3 linked regions of the Homo sapiens genome follow. The protein of the gene in region 2 interacts with the protein of the main gene of each other region in a biochemical or structural test. Each region holds a gene or a part of one and is shown on either strand. Other genes may lie near its edges.

Evidence for each region.
Region 1: the proteins of EIF4E (region 2) and EIF4G3 form a complex in vitro, tested with the Homo sapiens proteins (3 studies listed by BioGRID and IntAct, with this or other methods).
Region 3: the proteins of EIF4E (region 2) and PML form a complex in vitro, tested with the Homo sapiens proteins (4 studies listed by BioGRID and IntAct).

The regions. Positions count from the first base shown.
Region 1 is NC_000001.11:21,166,898-21,173,897, forward strand, and holds part of EIF4G3 (eukaryotic translation initiation factor 4 gamma 3), read right to left. Parts: intron 1,143-7,000; exon of another isoform or gene 1,064-1,142; intron 1-1,063. UniProt on the Homo sapiens protein: Component of the protein complex eIF4F, which is involved in the recognition of the mRNA cap, ATP-dependent unwinding of 5'-terminal secondary structure and recruitment of mRNA to the ribosome. Functional homolog of EIF4G1.
Region 2 is NC_000004.12:98,883,674-98,891,489, forward strand, and holds part of EIF4E (eukaryotic translation initiation factor 4E), read right to left. Parts: intron 7,660-7,816; coding exon 7,564-7,659; intron 4,280-7,563; coding exon 4,216-4,279; intron 3,520-4,215; coding exon 3,406-3,519; intron 2,874-3,405; coding exon of another isoform or gene 2,781-2,873; intron 1,389-2,780; coding exon 1,249-1,388; intron 1-1,248. UniProt on the Homo sapiens protein: Acts in the cytoplasm to initiate and regulate protein synthesis and is required in the nucleus for export of a subset of mRNAs from the nucleus to the cytoplasm which promotes processes such as RNA capping, processing and splicing.
Region 3 is NC_000015.10:73,990,420-73,997,715, forward strand, and holds the start of PML (protein PML), read left to right. Parts: upstream 1-4,296; 5' UTR 4,297-4,393; coding exon 4,394-4,522; intron 4,523-7,296. Other genes in the region: STOML1 (stomatin-like protein 1), read right to left, coding at 1-38, 1,672-1,804.

The DNA.
Region 1 (7,000 bases), on a different chromosome or scaffold from region 2:
TAGCCTCCCAAGTAGCTGGGACTACAGGCACGTGCAACCGCGCCTGGCTAATTTTTGTATTTTCTGTAAAGACGGGGTTTTGTCATGTCATCCAGGATGGTCTCAAACTCCTGAACTCAAGCAATCCACCCACCTTGGGCTCCTGAAGTGCTGGGATTACAGGCCATGAGTCACTGCACCTGGCCAAGTTCTCCGACCAAGTTCTATTTCTTACATACTAATTACTAGGACCTAGAAAAAAGGTCAGGAATCATCTCATTTAACCTTCAAGGTTCAGTCCTTTCCATTCTCAATGTAAAAATAGTATTCTGGTTTAAAACTGGCTGTGTTCATTTTCTATTCCCACTTAATTTTCTCTCCTTATTCCAAAATTATGTTTGTTCCCACACTTCAATCCTCTTTCCCTCATCCCGCATGAATCCCTGTGGTCTTTTCCTCCTTCCTTCAATCACTCCTCATGATACTAACACTTCCTGAAAACCAACTAAATGCCAGACGCGATGGCTCACGCCTGTAATCCCAGCACTTTGGGAAGCTGAGGCAGATGGATCACCTGAGATGAAGAGTTCGAGACCAGCCTGGCCAATATATAAATACACTAGGTGCAGTGGCTCACGTCTGTAATCCCAGTACTTTGGAAGGCCAAGGTCAGGAGTTCAAGACCAGCCAGGCCAATATGGTGAAACCCTGCCTCAACTAAAAATACAAAAATTAGCCAGGCGTGGTGCCGGGTGCCTGTAATCCCAGCTACTCAGGAGGCTGAGGCAGGGGAACCGCTTGAACCCGGGAGGTGGAGGTTGCAATGAGCCAAGATCACAACACTGCAATCCAGCCTGGGCAACAGAGTGAGACTCCGTCACAAAGAAAAAAAAAATTAGGACTCTGGCTCCCAGCCTTTTTTAAAAACTTAGTATACTTGAACATATAAAGATGAACTTAAAGAGATAATAAAGAAATGTAAATAATTGTATGGGAAAAAAACTTGTGATGTTACACTGAGTTTTAATCTTGCAAATAATGCAAAACATTACAGGAACAATAACTCAAAAGATGTTTGACTTACTGATAAAGGTTTGAACATTCCCCTTTGTAATGTGCAGTCATAACTTCTAAGCTAAAAGCCAAAGGTGAAAAAATATTCCCAAGAAAAGCATTCCAAATAAACAAAAAGTTCACTTATATTTCAAGTAGATACAGAATAAAACTATTCAAGAAGTATCTCTTGGCTGGGTGTGGTGGCTCACGCCTGTAATCCCAACACTTTGGGAGGCTGAGGTGGGCAGATCACTTGAGGTCAGGAGTTTGAGACCAGCCTGGCCAACATGGTGAAACCCCGTCTCTACTAAAAATACAAAAAATTAGCCGGTCGTGGTGGAGGGCACCTGTAATCCCAGCTACTCAGGAGGCTGAGGCAGGAGAATTGCTTGACCCGGGAGGCCAAGGTTGCAGTGAGCTGAGATCGTGCCACTGCACTCCAGCCTGGGTGACAGAGCGAGGCTCCGTCTCAATTTTTTAAAAAAAAAAAGTATCTCTTTTTATTTTTGGGGGACAGTCTTGCCCTTTCACCCAGGCTGGTGTGCAATCACACAATCAGGTCTCACTACAGCCTTGACCTCCCGGGCTCAAGCAATCCTCCGGCCTCAGCCTCCTGAGTAGCAGGGACTACAGGCATGCACTGCCACTCCTGGCAAACTATTTTTTAATTTTTATTAGAGATGGGGTCTCACTATGTTGCCCAGGCTGGTCTCAAATTCCTAGACTCAAGTGATCCTCCTGCCCCAGCCTCCCAAAGTACTGGGATTACAGGCATGAACCACCACACCTGGCCAAAAAAAGTACTTTTCATGGCAGATACTTAGGTAGCAAATTAAGCAAGATACAAAACTAGGTACATAATCTGACTTTATGTTACAAAAATGTATGACCACTAATATTAAAATCCACAGAAAAAAAAAAATCAGGACAGAAATACACCAAAATGTTAAAAGTGGTTATCACAGCTACACACTGGGACACATGCCTGTAATCCCAGAACTTTGGGAGGCCAAGGTGAGCAGGTGGCTTGAGCCCAAGAGTTCGAGACCAGCCTGGGTAACATGGCAAAACCCCATCTCTACAAAAAAATTAGCTAGGTGTGGTGGCACACACCTGTGGTCCGAGCTCCTTGGGAGGCTGAGGTGGGAGGATTGCTTGAGCCCAGGAGGTCAAGGCTGTAGTGAGCCATGACCATGCCCTGGGAGGTAGAGTAAGACCCCACCTCTTTAAAAAAGTGGCAAGGCGCGGTGGCTCACACCTGTAATCCCAGCACCTTGGGAGGCCGAGGTGGGCAGATCACCTGAAGTCAAGAGTTCGAGACCAGCCTGGCCAACATGGTGAAACCCCACCTCTACCCAAAATACAAAAATTAGCTGCGTATAATGGCATGCACCTGTAATCCCAGCTACTTGGGAGGCTGAGGCAGAATTGTTTGAACCCGGGAGGCAGAGGTTGCAGTGACCCAAGATTGTGCCACTGCACTCCAGCCTGGGAAACAGGGCAACACTCTCTCCCCCCAAAAAAATAAATAAATAAAATAAAATAAAATAAAAGGGGTTGTCTCCACTAATAAGATTATGAGTGATTTTTTACTTTTCTATATTTTTCCAAATTTCTCATTTAATTATGTCTTGCTCTTATAATCATAAGTTTTTAATAATAATATTTGACTACAGATGTTGTTCCTCTTTGGCCTTCATACCAACCCTAATCCTCAGTATCAATATGTACTTCAAATACAACTCAGGCACTTCAGATGGCTTTGTAAACTGGGTCAATGCTATTCCATCTGAAAGGAAATTACAGAATTATTTTCAATTCAATTATACATCCCTGCAAAATAATTTGAGGGCAGCTTTGAATGCTGTAAGTGAGTTGTGATGCCATCTATATTAATCCTAAAACTTATCTTCAAATTGATTCCCAAAGTCCAACACACTTTTTATTTAATAAATATTTACAGGCCAGGCACGGTGGCTCAAGCCTGTAATCCCAGCACTTTGGGAGGCCAAGGCAGGCGGATCACAAGATCAGGAGATTGAGAACATCTTGACCAACATGGTGAAACCCCGCCTCTACTAAAAATACAAAAATTAGCCAGGCGTGGTGGTGCACGCCTGTAGTCCCAGCTACTCTAGAGGCTGAGGCAGGAGAATCACTTGAATCCAGGAGGCGGAGGTTGAAGTGAACTGAGATTGTGCCACTAGCACTCCAGCCAGGGCGACAAGAGTGAAACTCCATCTCAAAAATAAATAAATAAACAAACAAACAAACAAACAAACAAATAAATTTACAGACTGCCTACTGTCTGTCAAGCAGTATTCTAGGTGCTAGCAATTCCACAGTGAACAAAATAAACAAAAATCTCTGCCTTCATGGAGTTTACATTCTATTAACAAAATTCAATGTCTTATAAAGTCAGGCAGCACACAGTGGGCTCAAAAAAGTACACAACAGGCCAGGTGTGGTGGCTCATGCCTGTAATCCCAGCACTTTGGGAGGCTGAGATGGGTGGATCACTTGAGGTCAGGAGTTCGAGAACAGCCTGGCCAACATGGTAAAACCCCACCTGTACCCCACATACAAAAATTAGATGGGTGTGATGGCGCGCACCTGTAATCCCAGCTACTCAGGAAGCTAAGGCAGGAGAATCACTTGAACCCAGGAGGTGGAGGATGCAGTGAGCCGAGACTGCGCCACTGCACTCCAGCCTGGGCGACAGAGACTCTGTCTCAAAAAAAAGTACAAAACAATTATTAGTTAATAAAGATCATGGTAGAGCATAGTAGCTAACACCCGTAATCCCAGCACTTGGGGAGGTCAAGGTGGATGGATCATTTGAAGTCAGGAGTTCAAGAGCAGCCTGGCCAACATGGCAAAATCCATCTCTACTAAAAATACAAAAATTAGCTAGGTGTGGTGGTACACACCTGTAATCCCAGCTACTTGGGAGGCTGAGGCATGAGAATCACTTGAACCCAGGAAGCAGAGGTTGCAGTGAGCCAAGATCACACTCCAGCCTGGGTGACAGAGCAAGTCCCTGTCTAAAAAAATAAATTAAAAAAAAAAAAAGTCGTAAAAACCAACAAATTTCAAATGCACTTAAAATAGTTTAACTTTCTCAAATTTCAGCTGAGCTACAGGAGATTGAAAAATTCCTTTGGTTGGCAGCAAGCCAAAGAACTGGAAGCCATTTGAGAATTCAGAAGTCGCTTGGGATCCTGCAATATCTCATCCGTGTAAGTCTCAGCTGCAGTTTATCCATTGCTTAAAGTCATATGCGTGGCTAATAATCAGGAACTAGTTACTTTCCTATTATATTAGCTCAAAGTATTATTCCTTAGGTAAAAATAGATTGTGTCTCACCACAGCACCACGGGAGTTTATTCCAGAACTTACTTTCCCTCATATCTCATAATGAACTAACTGTATCATCACCCAGAACAAGCCAGCAAATGACCATGGCAACCTTATTTTATGGTCTCCCACTATCTCACAACTAACTATACAGTCTTCACCACTGAAGTTAGAGAGGTGCTTCTGTCTCTGTGGCTGAATCTAACATTAACAAGCCAAAAACCAGAAGTAGCTTATATGAGCAAACTGCTGCTTTGCCTCTGCCTCTGCCCCATGTTAGTATCTTCTAATATCAATAAGCCACCACAGAACATGTCACTTACCATCAGACAAAGAAAACATTAACTGGTTTCTGTAAATCCCTCCTCTCCACTTGCAAGAATAACACAAATCTCAAAAGACAATCATAAGCAATTATAATTCAAGAAGGTCACTGAATAAATGAGTCTAGACCCTACATTTCAGAGAAGGGATAACCAATGCCTGAAGCAGTTGCATGGTTAGTCTAAGATAAGATATCTACTACAATGAAAGAGCCAAACTCAAAACCAGATTTTTTGCCTCCAAATCAGGTACACTTCTCAATACACCAAGGTAAATCTACTTCTATTTTAAGACTAGCAAGTACTGTTTCTAAGCCAAAGTCTAGTATTAAAAGGGCAAGGATATTACGAGATGCACTGGGAAGGAGACCAGGAAAAGACCCACCACAGATCAGATCAGGTATGTATCTCCTTCTCATACACTAATTCCTTAGATTATGATACAGAAAATACTTTGAATTTTTAGCTTGTGTTTGACTGTCACTTTCTCTGGTACCTCCTCTAGCAAAAAAAAAAAAAAAAAAAAGCCTGAAACGTGACTGAAATCCATTTATTAAAATTCTATGGAGCAGCAATGGAATTGGAAAAAGCAGGCCGGCAGAAGAGAAAGCTATGTAAACCTGGGTTAATTCTTACTCATTCTTCTAATTTAGCTGAGATGTCAACTTCTTTTAGAAAGCCTTAATTCCTCCTTCCCCAGACTACTCTCACAGCAGAGTTATCAGTTATCACTGTACTTGCCTCATGACGTTTTGTTTACCCACCTCTAACCAAAAGGACCAAGTTCTTTGAGGGCAAAGATTTCTACCTTAGCTCTTCAATCCTACATCTAGCACTGAGTGTAGCAGCACACAGTGGATGCTGAATTAATGAATTCATAAACTTGCCACATCTATTGAAGCCTCAATATAAATGGCAAAATGTGGCAATCCTATTTATTTATTTATTTATTTATTGAGATGGAGTCTCGCTGTCACCCAGGTTGGAGTGCAGTAGAGCGATCTCGGCTCACTGCAATCTCCGCCTCGCGGGTTCACGCCATTCTCCTGCCTCAGCCTACCAAGTAGCTGGGACTACAGGCGCCTGCCACCACGCCTGGCTAATTTTATGTATTTTTAGTAGAGACGGGGTTTCACCGTGTTAGCCAGGATGGTCTCGATCTCCTGATCTCATGATCTGCCCACCTCGGCCTCCCAAAGTGCTGGGATTACAGGAATCCTCTCCATTGACTTAAGATGTGGTTCTCGGCCGGGTGCAGTGGCTCACGCCTGTAATCCCAGCACTTTGGGAGGTAGAAGCAGGCGGATCACAAGGTCAGGAGATCAAGACCATCCTGGCCAACACAGTGAAACCCCGTCTCTACTAAAATACAAAAAATTAGCCAGGCATGGTGGCGCACACCTGTAGTCCCAACTACTCAGGAGGCTGAGGTAGGGGAATCGTTTGAACCCAAGAGGCGGAGGTTGCAGTGAGCCAAGATCATGCCACTATACTCCAGCCTGGCAACAGAGCGAGACTCAATCTCAAAAAAAAAAAAAAAAAAAAAAAAAAAAGACGTGGGTTCCAAACATTTTCTAGAAGACCTTTGATTTTGTTTTTTTTGAGGTGGAGTCTCACTCTGTAACCCAGGCTGGAGCGCAGTGGTGCAGTCTCGGCTCATTGCAACTTCTGCCTCGTGGGTTCAAGCGATTCTCCTGCCTTGGCCTCCTGAGTAGCTGAAATTACAGGCAGGCGCCACCACGCCCGGCTAATTTTTGTACTTTTAGTAGAGACCAGGTTTCACCAGATCAGGGCCAGGTGCGGTGGCTCAATGCCTGTAATCCCAGCACTTTGGGAGGCTGAGGCAGGCGGATCACCTGAAGCCAGGAGTTCGAGACCAGCCTGGTCAACATGGTGAAACCCAGTCTGATCACGCCTTACAAAAAATTACCTGGACCTGGTGGCACACGCCTGTAATCCCAGCTACTCAGGAGGCTGAGGCATGAGAATGGCTGGAATCCAGCCGGCGTAGGTTGCAGTGAGCCGAGATTACACCACTGCACTCCAGCCTGGGCGACAAAGCAAGACTCTGTCTCAAAAATAAATAAATAAAACTGTCTGAACTTATTAATTCAATGCAAACACAACTATACCCACATACTTTGAGGGTCTGGAGATCTATTCAAGCCATGAACAGTGCTAACTCCAGCTATGCACTCCTGCCAAGATGCTTAAATGTTATCCACTTATTGAACAATGACCACTTGCGTCAAATACAAATTCCCATACTCCCTCAGGGTAGAAAA
Region 2 (7,816 bases):
ATTACAGGTGTGAGCCACTGCGCCTGGTGTCAAATATTACTAATATAATTGAGGTAAAAAGAAATCTTAGAAAAAAAATGTCAGCTGGTTTAGCATGGTGGCTCACGCCTGTAATCTCAGCACTTTGAAAGGCTGAGGTGGCTTGATCAAGTCCAGGAGTTCATGACCAGTCTGGGCAACATGGCAAAACCTCTTCTCTACAAAAAATACAAGAAAATAGCCAGGTGTGGTCATACACACCTGTAGTTGCAGCTAATTGGGTGGCTGAGGTAGGAGTATCACCTGAGCCCAGGAGGTTGAGGCTGAAGTGAGCCATGACTGCACCACTGCACTCTTGCCTGAATAACACAGTGAGACCCTGTCTCAAAAAAAAAAAAAAAGCCACTTTTGCAAAGAATAAAATTTACAAAAAAAGGTTTAATAAAACCCTACATATGTGGGTTTTAAACATGGAACAAAAACCAAGATATGTTATATAAATTTTAATGAAAATTATACGTAGTAAACACACATGCTTTAAATGCACATATACTATTTGCCAATAATCACTGAATTATTATTATGAGCATACATTAGCTCTTTTCAAAGTAGTACTTTTTTCCAAACAGCACTTTCAAAGTAGGAAATAATACATTCTCATTTGTGAATGAATAAAAAATGCTACATGCCAAAGGAGAGTGCTCTAGTGGTTATATACTTCACTGCTAAGAAAAAGCAATTTTACAGAAATAAAAAACATATGAAAAAGGCCAGGCGCAGTGGCTCATGCCTGTAATGATAGCACTTTGGGAGGCTGAGGTGGACGGATCACTTGAGACCAAAAGTTAAAAGACCAGCCTGGCCAACGTGGCAAAACCTGGTCTCTACTAAAAATATAAAAATTACCCAAGCATGGTGGCATGCGCCTGTATTCCCAGCTACTCGGGAGGCTGAGACATAACAATCTCCTGAACCCGGGAGGCGGAGGTTGCAGTGAGCCTAGATCATGCCACTGTACTATATATAGCCTGGACAACAGAGTGAGACTCTATCTCTAAATAAATAAATAAATAAATAGCTGTGAAAAAACCCAAAAAAACAAGACGTTGCGCACCAATTGAGCCGTTCAAAATTATAAAAGTGTTCACGAAAACAATACAAGGAAAACAGGATCTACAAACTGAAGTATTTCTAAAGCTACAAATAAAATAACTTCTGGTTTTACTCATCTTAATACTGTAAAATAAGTAGGCAAAGAGCAAAACTTACCCTATATGTGTAACAGCTTCTCTGTTTTCACATTCAGTAGTCCATATTGCTATCTTATCACCTTTAGCTCTAACATTAACAACAGCGCCACATACATCATCACTGTAGTCATCAAAAGATTCTCCAATAAGGCACAGAAGCTTAAAAAAAAATCCCAAATTACATTTAATAGATTATAAACAAGCTCATTACACTGCAAATGTCTCTTCTGTATTTGCATAGAAACTAAAGGCAGTTTTTAAATCAAGAGTTAATTTTTTAAATGTGTAAATTTTATTTGCATATATTGATCTGTCCTGACTTTTAAATACTCATTCATTTATTTACTATCAAATCAGCCTTTTTCAGCAAATTTGGCAGTTAATGTCATGGCAGACATAAAAGCTGATTTTATTAATATTCATTTGCTCTGCTGCTGCTTATATTTATGAGCAAACAAATATTAATAGAATAATAAAAATAGCTATTCATGGTTAATCTCCTCTTGTTCTTATTTTTTATGAATATTTGTTAATGGTCTGGTTTTTTGTTGTTGTTGTTGTTTGAGACAGGGTCTTGCTCTGTCACCCTGGCTGGAGTGCAGTGGGATCATCACAGCTCACTGCAGCCTCAACCTCCTGGGCTCAAATGATCCTTCCACCTCAGCCTCCTGAGTAGGTGGGCATACATACAGGGACATGTCACCATACCCAGTTAATTTTTGTATTTTTTGTAGAGACAGGGTTTTGCCATGTTGCCCAAACTGGTCTTGAACTCCTGAGTTTAAGTGAAATGCCTGCCTCAGCCTCCTGAAGTGTTGAGATCACAGGTGTGAGCCCAGCCCTAACAGATTTCTTAATTGTGGTAAAATACAAATAACATAAAATTTACCATTTTAACCACCTTTAAGTGTACAGTTCAGTGGTGTTAAGTACATTCAACATTGTTGTACAACCATCCCTACTACCATCCATCTCCAGAAGATTTTTTTTAACTGCAAAATGGAAATGTCCTGACTTTTTAATGTGGAATTCAAAAATGGTATTTGCTCATGATCTTCCCCCTCAAAAACAGAATTTTCTTCTTAAAAAGTCATTCATTCATTAGCTGGCTGTGCTGGCATGCACCTGTAGTCCCAGCTACTTGAGAGGCTAAGGCAGGATGATTGCTTGAACCCAGGAGGCTACAGTGAGCTATGATGGCCCCACTGCACTCTAGCCTGGGCGACAGAACAAGACCCTGTCTCTAAAAAAAAGCAAAATAGTCACTTATTCAAACATTTAAAGTGATTAACTTAACAAGTGCTAACTATAAACCAGGCACGGTTTCAAGTGCTAGGGATACAAAAGAGACTACAAACCCCGCTCCTATAAGCTTGGGGTTTGGAACCTCTGTCTACAGAAAATGCTTATTATCTCATATTTAATTTGTCTTGTAAAGCCAGAAGTTCCAGTTAATATCACAACATGTAGGTCAAATGGTAGTACACAACAATTTTATTATTTGCTTCACTAATCTAAAAAGTTTAGTGGGACAGGCACAGTGACTCACACCTGTAATTCCAGCACTTTGGGAGGCTGAAGTGGGAGGATCACTTGAGGCCAGAAGTTTGAGACCAACCTGGGCAACATAGCAAGATCCCATCTCTGGAAAAAAATTAGAAAATTAGCTGGGCATGGTGGCATGCACCTGTAGTCCCAGCTACTTAAGAGGCTGAAGTGGGAGGATCACTTGAACCCAGAGGGTGAGGCTGAAATGAGCCATATAAATAAATATCCGCACTCCAGCCTGGGCAACAGAGCAAGACCCTCGCTCTAAAAATATAAGTATTTAAAAGTTTAGTATACATATAGCAATGCTGTAAGAGGGTTGCAAAAACTTCAATCATACAAAATGTAAGGTTCTATAATTTTGAGGTTAATGAAATGACCACAGTGAGCTTACTGTGGTGAGAGTCAACTGCCAATCACTTAAAATATCTGACTTATAATGTGGTAGGATGTTTCACTGTACTATAAACAGGAGTCATATGACAGAACAAAAATAATTACTGACCCTGATTTTCTAGTGTTGGGCATCCTTCTCTTAAATTAAGTAACAAATGTAAAACATAACATATCTTAAGTATCAGTATTCCAAAACTACCTCTAAAACTGCTTTATACTTTTAAAACCTTACTGTCTCTAGCCAAAAGCGATCGAGGTCACTTCGTCTCTGCTGTTTGTTCAATGTAATTAGCCATCGTCCTCCCCGTTTGTTTTTCTCATCTTCCCACATAGGCTCAATACCATCCTACAGGGTTAGAAGACAACAGTATTACACAACATTGTTACCTTGACTTTGAGAGATAATCATTAGAAACAGTTAAGCAACAACACTGTCAACTTCTTACTTTATTGCCCATAAAACTGCCATTGATGTAGTTTTTAAACAGCACATAAGACTTAAAGCCAGAGGCATGACATTGCAGAATTAGAGTCCTGGCTTTGTCACTTATTAGCTATCAAATCTTGGGTTTCACTTAATTTGAAGGTTCTTAAACTTTCTGAGAAGCAAACATATTTTAGAAGCTCTGTACATTTCTACAGCTAGAAAATACATGCAAAAACTATGCAATTTCAGTTAATGAATGTCCCGTCCCTCTACCAACTGACAAAGCCCAATAATAAGTATTCCAAGGACCCATGCTCCTAAGGTTAAGAATGCTTGATAAACTCAGTCTGCTCAAATATATAAAGGAAGGAGTAGACTGGATAATCAAAGCTCTCATCAAAATCAATCTCAGTATGTGCCCACAGAGTAACTCTCTCTCAATTTTTATAAACAAATAGAATAAGATATATTGATACTAAAGCATACTACAGCCAATTAAATTATCAGCCTATTCATCACACTATCAAATATTCCTAAGTTTATGGTAAGATTTCTTAATGAATACCAAATGGCCCAGTCCTATAATAAATATATAAAATCACCAATTAAGCATACCTTAAAAAGTGAGTAGTCACAGCCAGGCATTAAATTACTAGACAACTGGATATGGTTGTACAGACTAGGTAAAAGAAAATAACAATTAAAAACACAGAATATGTAATATAGAGTTTAGGTGCTTACATATATATACATTTAGAACATATGATGAAAATAAACAGATAAAAGTTCATGTTTACTTGTTTCTAAGGAGTCAATTTCTAAAATGGACAAAACAGATCTTAAAAGCAGTTAAATAATCAACTTCAGATGACAGGTATAATTTTCAAAAAAACTTCTAGTGACTGCTCTGACAAAAATATATTTTATGTTAGTTAACTCAGTGCATACATATGTATATATATAAGAAACTGAGAAGAGAGGTATAAGGTGGCTTTAAGTAGATGAAATAATTTCTGAAGTTAATACACAGTTTTTTTCACAAACATAAAAAAACAAAAACAAAAACAAAAACAAAAACCAGAAACGATGAACTTCCTGACCATCAGGATTGCATGACTGAAACAGTCATTATCCTTGAAGGTATCCAAGAGTAGAATAGATCAACGGTTCCCAAACACCACAAACTGTCACTGGTTAGTCAACATAATAATCATTTTAAAACTGATTTTAGAAAAATAAATAAATAAATATAGTTACAAGCCCTACATCTTGGGATTATAATCACCTAAATATAAGATGGAACCCTGCAGTCTGTATTTCTAAACTATTTCCCAAGTATCAAAATAACAGAATAACATTTGCGATGACTTAGTTGCTTGCCTGAAGGTAGGAGGCTTAGATCATTTGATCTCCTGTAGTCTTTTACAGCAAAATTGATTTAAAAATTGGCAACTCTTAAGAATCTTTTGCTTGTCTCCAATATTAGATGGCAGAAATAATGATCTTAGCTGTGTCTACAGACCATGGATGATTCTACTATCCTTAGTCTGGTTCTCCTGGTGCTATGTTAACCCCATCTAGGAATATTTCAGGTAAAGATTTAAGGGCCGGGTGCAGTGGCTCACGCCTGTAATCCCAGCACTTTGGGAGGCCGAGGCAGGTGGATCATGAGGTCAGGAGTTCGAGACCAGCCTGACCAACATGATGAAACCCTGTCTCTACTAAAAATACAAAAATTAGCCGGGCGTGGTGGCATGCGCCTGTAATCCCAGCTACTAGGGAGGCTGAGGCAGGAAAATCGCTTGAACCCAGGAGGCGGAGGTTGCAGTGAGCCGAGATCACCCCATTGCACTTCAGCCTGGTGACAGAGCTAGACTCCATCTCAAAAAAAAAAAAAAGATTTAAGAAAGAAGTTGGCATCTTTAAATCAAATTCCATAGTATAACACACAAATATAGTTTAGGTGAGACAACCTAAGACCACATAAGGTTTGCTGAGTCACTACCTAATGGTAACTCCCAACTACATCATCAATGACAGCCTCCACTAGGCAACAAAAAAAGACGGGATACTAAGTGACTATAAAATTAGCGCTACTAATGTCATAAAATGAATGGATATTGTGGGAATGACCTTCAATAAAATACTTTTTCCCTTTTGCTGCCTCCTTTCTCTTCTGTGGTGCTCAAAGGTCTCTCAAGTAAGTCCATCATGAGAATTTATAATGGCACATCTAAACAGAATCCTAAGACTATGCAGTCTGGATAAATACAAAAGGACTCAATGGTTATCTGCAATAAATTTGCTAGAAAAAAACAGAAATTAGGAAGTGGCCCACACATTTATAGAAAACTGAAAAATCCTTCATATCTCTAAGTTATGGTATAAAAACCTACTATGTAATGACATTGACTACATGTAACTGAAGCATGGAGAACTGTTCTAATTAGAAGGTAGAATTATGTAAACTGGTAAAAGCCAAACAAACTAGATAAATGCAAATCTGATTGGGGAAGGTGGCTCAAGGCTTCCTTTTTCTCTGTAGGAGAATGAAAAGCTTTTTTTTGGGGGGTGCAGAAGACTGGAGTTATTTAAGAGTCCTGAATAAACAAAACTAGAGAAGAAAAACTACTTGATGTTTTGATGATGGGCAAAGAATAATAATCCTAGTTTAACTAGAAAACTAGACCTATAAATTATTAGGCCTTAAATGTAGTTATTATTAAGTGTCAATGCTTTTAATAAAAAATAAATACTCTCAAAGTTTACTCTCAAATGAATGTTCTCAAATACTCTCAAAGTTTATGGTTTTAATCGTATGCTTTGCTTTTTTCAGCAACACAAATGAATACAAAATATCTATTAGAAGCCAAGCACTGGAAATATACAGAAAAATATTGTTTCTGCTGTTGAAGATGTACATACATATGTATAAATTTTATACCACAATCTATTTCTTTGTATGAGCAGAATATCTTGAGGGGGTTACATTAAAACATAAGAGTAGCATCACTAATTCAGCATGTATATGATCCTAAAAAAAGATGTACAAGTTAGAATATTTAGATAACTGCTAGGTAATTTAAAGTGCTTATTAAAGAGTTTTGCCTTTCATGGTCTCAAATAGTACCTCCCTAGTCATTCTCCAAGTAAATTAGACACACTGGATTAACTTTGTTTTTAAGAGAATCAATTATCAAAACTTCTTGAAATAGACTTTACAATTTTTATTTATTTTATAGAGAAACAGGGACTCATGTTGACCAGGTTGGTCTTGAACTCCTGGCTGCAAGTGATCTTCCTGCCTCAGCATCCCAAAGTATTAGTATTACAGGCATGAGTCACTGAGCCCAGCCTTAAATTTTGTTTTAAGGTCATGCAAAAGTTGATGATCCCAATTCTTAACTTTCTGCTATACAGAAACAAAATTTCAAAAATATTTCAACTATTCTTCTTGAGGTTGATCAAAGTATAATGAAATGAATAAAGTATCATGATAGATACTGGCATTGCCTTGACAAACCGTGAATTCTGAACACTTCAGCCTTTGATATCTTAAAATCTCTGGTACAGGAAATTCCAGATATTGCACTGAAAACAGTTTGCAGAAATGAGGACCCAACAACGCACTGCAATACCCAGTTATGAGGCAAATGTATCTTGGCAACCAGGAGTGGAACAAGTTCCAACTAGCTGTCAAAAGTTCTAAGGGCAATAATGGATTCTTGAGCTAAGGATATCTCAGGACAAGAAACAATAATTGGGGCTGGGGGATGACAAGATTGAAGCTCTGTAAAACTAATAAAGCATAATCACCAATTCAAACTTTTGTGAGGAGATAAAAAAATAGATGAACATTCATTAACTGTTTAACTCACACTTCATTTTGTGAATTCGACTTAAAAATAAAAAAACTACACAACGAATAAAACAACAAACATACTAAAACAAATGGTTACTTACGCCCAAAAGTCTTCAACAGTATCAAACTTGGAGATCAGCCGCAGGTTTGCTTGCCAAGTTTTGCTTTTATCATTTTTAAAAAACCAGAGTGCCCATCTAAAAATAAAAAATCAGTGTCAAAAAATGGTAGCTGCATACCCATGTTAAAAGCAACATTATTCACAAAAGTCAAAAGGTAGAAGCAACCCACCTGTCCATCAACAGATGAATGAAAAATGTATATATACACACAATGGAATACTAAAAAGCCCTG
Region 3 (7,296 bases), on a different chromosome or scaffold from region 2:
GCCATGACAGAGGCAGGAGGGCCAGCTCTGGGGTACATCTGCAGGTGAGAGCAGAGGTGGTCAACTGGACCTGCACGACAGCTGCCAAGCGGAGTGAACTTGGGCAAGTGTACCTTACGCCCACCTTCCCCTCGAGAGGCTCCTTCCTTCTCAGGGCTCTCAATCTGGCTCCTTGCCTAATATTCCCGTATCTTTGGGCAGCTGCAAGTTAGGGTCTGTTCCCTCCTCCCATACATCAACACTCATTTGTCCCAAGTCCAACAACCCTCACAAGGCCTTATTCTCTGCTAGGCAACAGCCATTCAATCTCAGAATCCAGTCCGCGTGATGATGCTCTCCTCACTGGACTGAGTAGGGGTCAATCCTCTCGTTTAATTTATATTGCCTACCCATACCTGGCATGGAGCCAGGAGCACCTGGGCATCTGTAAACATGCACTGAATACTGCTGGCAAAACACATTCCTCCTATACCATCAGCCCCAGAAGTGTGCTTTCCAGGAGTCCTTATGAAGATGATGCCTTAGCCTACAGGGATAAATCATAAATAGCTTATCAACGGGAGCCACAGATGAGGAATTAGATTATTATTTTCTATTCCACACCCAACTTTAATGCCTTAATGACCATTAAAAAATGCCTATTTCACGAGATGGCGCCACTGCACTCCAGCCTGGGGGACAGAGCGAGACTCCATCTCAAAAAAACAACAAACAACAAAAAACAAAAACAAAAAAAAACCCTGCCTATTTCAATTCAAGAAAATTGTTAGGGGTCGGGGTCAGGGGCAGGGCTAGAAAGATGAGGCTTATCCAAGCCAAATGTCCTGGCCCCTGGAGATTCAGGAGCCCAAGTTGGGAGCAAAGCCGAGACAGCTCCAGAATCTGGGATGAGGTTATTTGCCGCTTTCCTCCCAACCCTGGACAGGAAGCAGTCGGGAGCCCTGCTCCATTCTTCCAGGAAGCCCTGCCCTCTGGGCTAAGCCCCAGAGCACTGAGGCTCCACTTTGTGCCTGGCTCTGATCCACCAGGCCTCTCAAGAGACTTCTGGATAGGGAGAGCTTTCAGGACAGGAAGGCCAGGGAGGGATCAAATCCAAGGTTAGGCGGTTAGGCTGAACAGCGTGGGATCTGGCCTGTAGGCCAAAGGAGCCACAGAAGACTTTGAGGGCAAGACAGAAGCAGGGCAGATCCAACAGGCAGCTGAGGACCTGTCATTTTGGCCTGCACATCCAGGAGATGCCTAGTTCCCGGGCTTCTAGAGGTGCCCCCTAGGGCGAAAATTCTTCCATTTCCCTGCAGCAGGTGCCTTTAGGGTGCTGGTGGCCTCCTCTGCCTAGACCTCGGTTTCTTCTATGCGAAATAGAAACCTGAAACGTCTTCCCAGGCCTAAAGGGCTGATAAGAGCCGAGGACAAATGTGGTGAGGTGAGGTTTTGGAAGATAGGAGCAACGCTGGCTGGCTCTGGGGCCAAAGCCCCATGACCCTAGGGAGGGCGGATCGGCGCTAGCACCAGGCGCCGGGTCCAGCCCCCTCTCCACATCGTATCCCTTTCTCAGTCCCCCCTCGTAGGGTGCGACGGCACCGGGCCGGCCGACTCCTCGGAGGCAGAGATTCGGGCCTGGGGGTTGCCGGCCGGTCCCCCCCGGCTCCGCCGTGCCAGGCGGCCACTCACCGGCCCCTGTCCCCACGCCGCCCCGCTCCGGGGACAAGCAGCCCTTCTGCGAGCCCAGAAAGCCGAAGCTCGACTGCTGGAAGCGGTCAAAATCACCCAGGGGCAGCGCCCGGTACCCAGACCTGCCGAGCATGGCTTTTGACAGGAGACACGCCCCGCGCCTCCGCGCGGCGCCCTCCCTGGCCAGTGGGCCCTACGCGGCCCCGCCCTCCTGGCTGCTGCTTCCGGCTTCACCCGCGCGGCCACCCGCGGCGGCGCGGGCGCAGGAAGAGGAGGCCGGCCGGGGCCCGCTTCCGCCGTCGCATGGCTCCCCCTGCGCTGGGAGGACCGAACTGCAGCCCAGGGCTACTGGGTGTGATCGGCGTTCCTCGGACCCCGCTGGGGTCATCGCCTCCTCCCCTCTTCTCCTACTCAGCCCTAGAAAAGCTGGAGGGGAAGCTGGGCACGGTGGCTCACTCCTATAATCCATCAATTTGGGAGACTCAGGCAGGAGGATCGCTTGAGGCCAGGAATTCAGGACCATCCTGAGCAACATAGTGAGAGCCCATCTCTACAAAAAATTTTTAAAAATTAGCCTGGCGTGGGATGCCTGCCTGTGGTCCCAGCCACTTGGGAGGCTGAGGCGGGAGGATCTCTTGAGTCCAGGAGTTTGAGGCTGCAGTGAGCTATGATCGTGCCACTGCACTGCAGTCGGAGCGAGAGAGCAAGATCTCATCAGGGTTTACAGGAAGCCAATCTTCTCCAGGATCAAGGACATGCTATATCAGCCTTCTCAGCACTCCTTCTCTCACACTGGAGGCAGGACATGCCATATCTGGACTTTGGGTTTCTCTGGGACATAGTCTGCAAATTATTCCTCTTTGTGAACCCACAGCCCAGCAAGCAGGGACTGGCATAGGGCAGGTCTCAATACTTATTTGTTAAGTAATGGCCTGGCCAGGTCACCGTGATCAAGGTGGAGTAGGAAGGCCTGAACTTTGGCACAAAAAGAAAGAAGTTTCACATGCAGACTTCGGGGAGCATGGGAGTGTAAGGAAGAAGGGGATAGCACAGAGCTACATGAGGGCAGGGGCCCCAGAGCACCACAGAGGTGAGGCCCTCAGTCCTGCAGGTCCAGAAAGAGCATGCCCCTTGATCCAGGTACCTGGAATTAACTTGCCTCTCCAGGGCTTGAGAAAACCTGAATGCAACTCGTGAATTTCCTTTGAGAAGTGTTAACTTCCAACAGGACTTTGGGGTAGTCTGGGAGCAGGCTATCTTCCAAAGCAAGCAAAGAAATGAATAAAGCTTCCCCAGCTCTGCCTCCTCAGCCAATCGCCTCTGGCCTCCGAAGCCCCATCCTGCCATAGCCCACTTCCAGGTCCCTTGTGCAGATGGCTGCCCACCATATTTGGCTTTCATGGACTGATTCTCTAAAGGCCTGGGAGTACTGACCAGGCTGGAGGGAAGGGCAGGCTCCTGAGGCCTTACAGTCCCTAGGAAGTTGCGTATCTGCCCAACCCCTGCTCTCCACCCTGCAGACTGTAAGGTTTACAAGAGCCAGGCCCTATCATCATCCTTTCTAGTCTGTTTCTAAGTTGGAACAGAGTACGGAATGGGTACACAGGAGCCAGCACAGTGGTTGCGATGGTTTAAGTTTGAAGCCGGGGCGCTGACCCAGTGAGGTCACCTGGAACTGTGCCCCTTTCCCCTTACCAGCTGGGAGTCTGACATGCTTTTCCATTGGCGAAGACCTAGCTGGCTCTCCCCTCACCCTCTTCATACCCGCTCTCCAGCTCTCCCCCTCCCTCCTGCCCCCACCACCTCAGATCCACCAGCCTTTCCAGCTGTCACTCAAGGCATCATCCTGCTCCCTCACCTCCAGTCACTGGCTTCCCAGGATCTCTGAATCAAGTCCCTCCTCTGCATCCCACAGCCACTGTCCTAGACCAGGGCACCTGCTCCTAGGTTGTCAGAGTGACTGTCCCATCATGCACAGCTGATCGTGTTGTTCCCTGGTTCCAAATCCTTCAGCAACTTCCCATCACTCACAGAACTGGTTCAATCTCCTCAGCTAGGATCTTGTCCTAGCACACTCCTTGGGTATCATTTCTCATGAATTCCCTCTTAAATCTGAAAATGGCCAAAATTAGTTCCCAAACAGGCTTTTGCAAGAGCTATCTTTTCTGTTTCAAGTGTCCCCCGTACCCCACCACCTACAACCCTAAATCCCTGGTGAATTTCCACTGCTTTTGCAGGTCCCAGCTGTGGGCTCTCCTTTCCAGAATGTCTCCGTTTGCAGGCTTGCTCTTCCATTACATCTACGGCTCTTAGAAAGCAGGGGCTGCGTGTGGCTCATCTTTGTACGCCCAGCTCCCGGCAGGACGTGGCACGAAGCAGTGCCAGTGTGAACGGATGAATGGATCAAAGCCGGGAGCAGGGCTGCCCCCCTGCAGCTCTGCCCTACCTCTCCCGCTTTACCGTAAGTCAGCGGTAGGTCTGCAGCTCTCCGCCTCTACCTCCTCCCCGCTCTGGGCGTGTCTTTAAAACCCACAGTCGGCCTCTCTGCCCCCTAGAACCGCCCCCAGCTTCTGTCTCACTTCCTCTCCAGAGGCGGGCCCTGAGCCGGCACCTCCCCTTTCGGACAGCTCAAGGGACTCAGCCAACTGGCTCACGCCTCCCCTTCAGCTTCTCTTCACGCACTCCAAGATCTAAACCGAGAATCGAAACTAAGCTGGGGTCCATGGAGCCTGCACCCGCCCGATCTCCGAGGCCCCAGCAGGACCCCGCCCGGCCCCAGGAGCCCACCATGCCTCCCCCCGAGACCCCCTCTGAAGGCCGCCAGCCCAGCCCCAGCCCCAGCCCTACAGAGGTACTATTGGGTTAGGGGATGATGGGGTTAAGCTTTGTTGGTTTGCTGTGGTGGGGAGAGGCGGGAAGAGAGGGTCTAACGGAGGATTTGGTCAAGTACCCTAGAGAGTGACACAAAGCGGGAAGTCCAGACACCAGGGTCCTGACCGTCTCGGGTGGGGCAGGGAAGGGAGGGTAGGATAGAGTAGAAAAGAGGACACGGAGGAGTTGGGGCGGCCTCGCTGGGCTGCGGTTTCTCCACTGAGCAGTTGGGCAAGGTGAGAAGGGTCAGTGGCCTCCGGGCCTGGGCCCTTCCGCCCACCCTCGAGCCCTGCCTCAACTTTGCCTCAGATGCAGGACTTCAGATTAGGGAGGATGGAGGTAGTACCCCTGTTGCGCTGGCCTGGAGCCAGGGGCATGTCCCAGGCACGGCAAAACTAAAACCAACTTCCCAGATCCGAGGTGAGAAACTGGCTCAGACTGAAGAGGTATCTTTGCCAAGGCCTCCCAGCTCATGTGGTTTCTGCTTAAGGAAGCCTCCCCAACGAACCCTTCTCTTGCCACACCTTTCCTGCCCACCTCCCACCTCCCCCGACAAAGGAACTACTTGGGTTTCTTGCTCTGCTGCCTTTCAGGCCCTTTTACTCCCCTTCATGAAAGTACAGAGGACACCGTATTACAGTAACTTTTATAAACATTATTACAACTAAGAATAACATTACTTAACAATACTAGGTAACATTTATGAGCACTTCAAATGTGCCAGGTACTGTATTAAGCACTTTGGTTTTTTTTTGTTGTTGTTTGTTTGTTTTGCTTTGTTTTTTGTTTGTTTGTTTATCTGTTTGTTTTTGAGACGGAGTCTCACACTGTCGCCCAGGCTGGAGTGCAATGGTGCGATCTCGGCTCACTGCAACCTCCTCCTTCCGGGTTCACGCCATTCTCCTGCCTCAGCCTCCCGAGTAGCTGGGATTACAGGCCACGCCACCATACCTGGCTATTTTTTATATTTTTAGTAGAGATGGGGTTTCACTATGTTGGCCAGATTGGTCTCTAACTCCTGACCTCGTGATCCACCCACCTCGGCCTCCCAAAGTGCTGGGATTACAGGCATGAGCCACCATGCCCGGCCTGTTTTTGTATTTTACAAAATGTGGTAAAATATACCTAATGGATAAGTTCCTATGTTAACCATTTATAAGTGTACCATTCAGTGGCATTAAGTAGATTCACAATATTGTGTAACCATCACCACCATCTATTTCCAGAACTTTTTCATTACTCCAGAAACTCTGTACTCTTTAAACCATAGGGGAGGGAAAGATGGCTTGCCTCCACCCTTCTAGTTTCCTTGGCTGGGCTATGAATTAAATAGCCTATGAATTAAATAGTCATAAAATAGATTACCAGCGGAAAACCCATATTTAATTACATATGTATACTCAGGAGTCCCACAATATATGAGACTCAAAGAAAGGTCAGATGATTGAAGCCTGTATAACATCCTGAGCTACGGAAAAGAGCTTGGAGCTTCTGGGTGATGGTGATAACACAAGTTATGGGAGGGTGAGGAGAGGAGCTGTTTGGTGAATAGAGGTTGTCTTGCTATGTAGATTAAAAGTTCTTAGATAATAAAAGTTGTCTGGAGCAGCCCTCTTTTAATATAGATCATTTTACTAATGTAGATTTTCTTTTAAGATATAAATGCCTTTCTTTTTTACAAAAGGAGAGCTTTTCAGAGCTATTCCTGTATCAGCAGTTTCTCAGAATAACCAGCTTAAAATATGCCAAAGAAGTATATTTCAAGAGCCTCCTGCAGTCATACTTTGAAGTGGTGTGTCCTGAGCCCCAGTAATGCAATAGCTCCTCATTTTCTCCTTCCCCTAGCCCTTGGTAACTTCTAATCTACCTTCTGTCCCTATGAACTTACTTATTCTAGATATTTCATGTAAGTGGAATTGTTACCAGTAGAGGATCTTGACTGCAAATTGTTCAGGTTCTTGGCATTTTGAACAAAGAATTGGACAAAATGTACAGCAAAGCAAGGAAAGAGTGAAGCAATGAAAGCAGAGATTTATTGAAAATGAAAGTACACCCCACAGGGTGGGAGCGGCTAGAGCAGGGCTCAAGGACCCCAGTTACAGAATCTTCTGGGTTCCAAATACCCCCTAGAGGTTTCCCATTGGCCACTTGGTGTTCACCCCATTGGTTGCAGAAAGCAACCAACCAGACGTACTTTCAATTTTCCATCTGCCCTGCAGGAAATGGGGTGATTTGCAAAGAGAGTAGCCTCTCTTCCTTTTGTTACTGAGGCATGGAGAGTTGCGGTTTTCCTTTCGATTTAGTTCTAGGAAGTCAGAGGGAATCGGCCTTAGGTTCCCTGCCTCCAGACCCTATTCTCCTGCCTCAGAATCATACAGTGTTTGACCTTTTGTGACTGGCTTATTTCACTTAGCATAATGTCATTGAGGTCTATCTATGTTGTAGCATGTATCAGAATTTCATTTCTTTCTAACGCTGAGTAATATTCCATTATATGTGTAGACCACATTTTGTTTATCTATTCATCTGTTGATGGATACTTGGATTGTTTCTACATTTTGTCTATTGTGAATAGTGTTGCTGTGGACATTGTTGTACAAGTATCTGTTTGGGCCTTGTTTTTACATCTTTTGGTTATATATCTAAGAGTGGAATTTCTGGGTCATATTGTTGTTCCATGCTTACCTCTTTAATGAACCCCCAAACTGTGCATTAAGCACTTTATATGAGGTTGGTACTTAGTGTATCTACCTT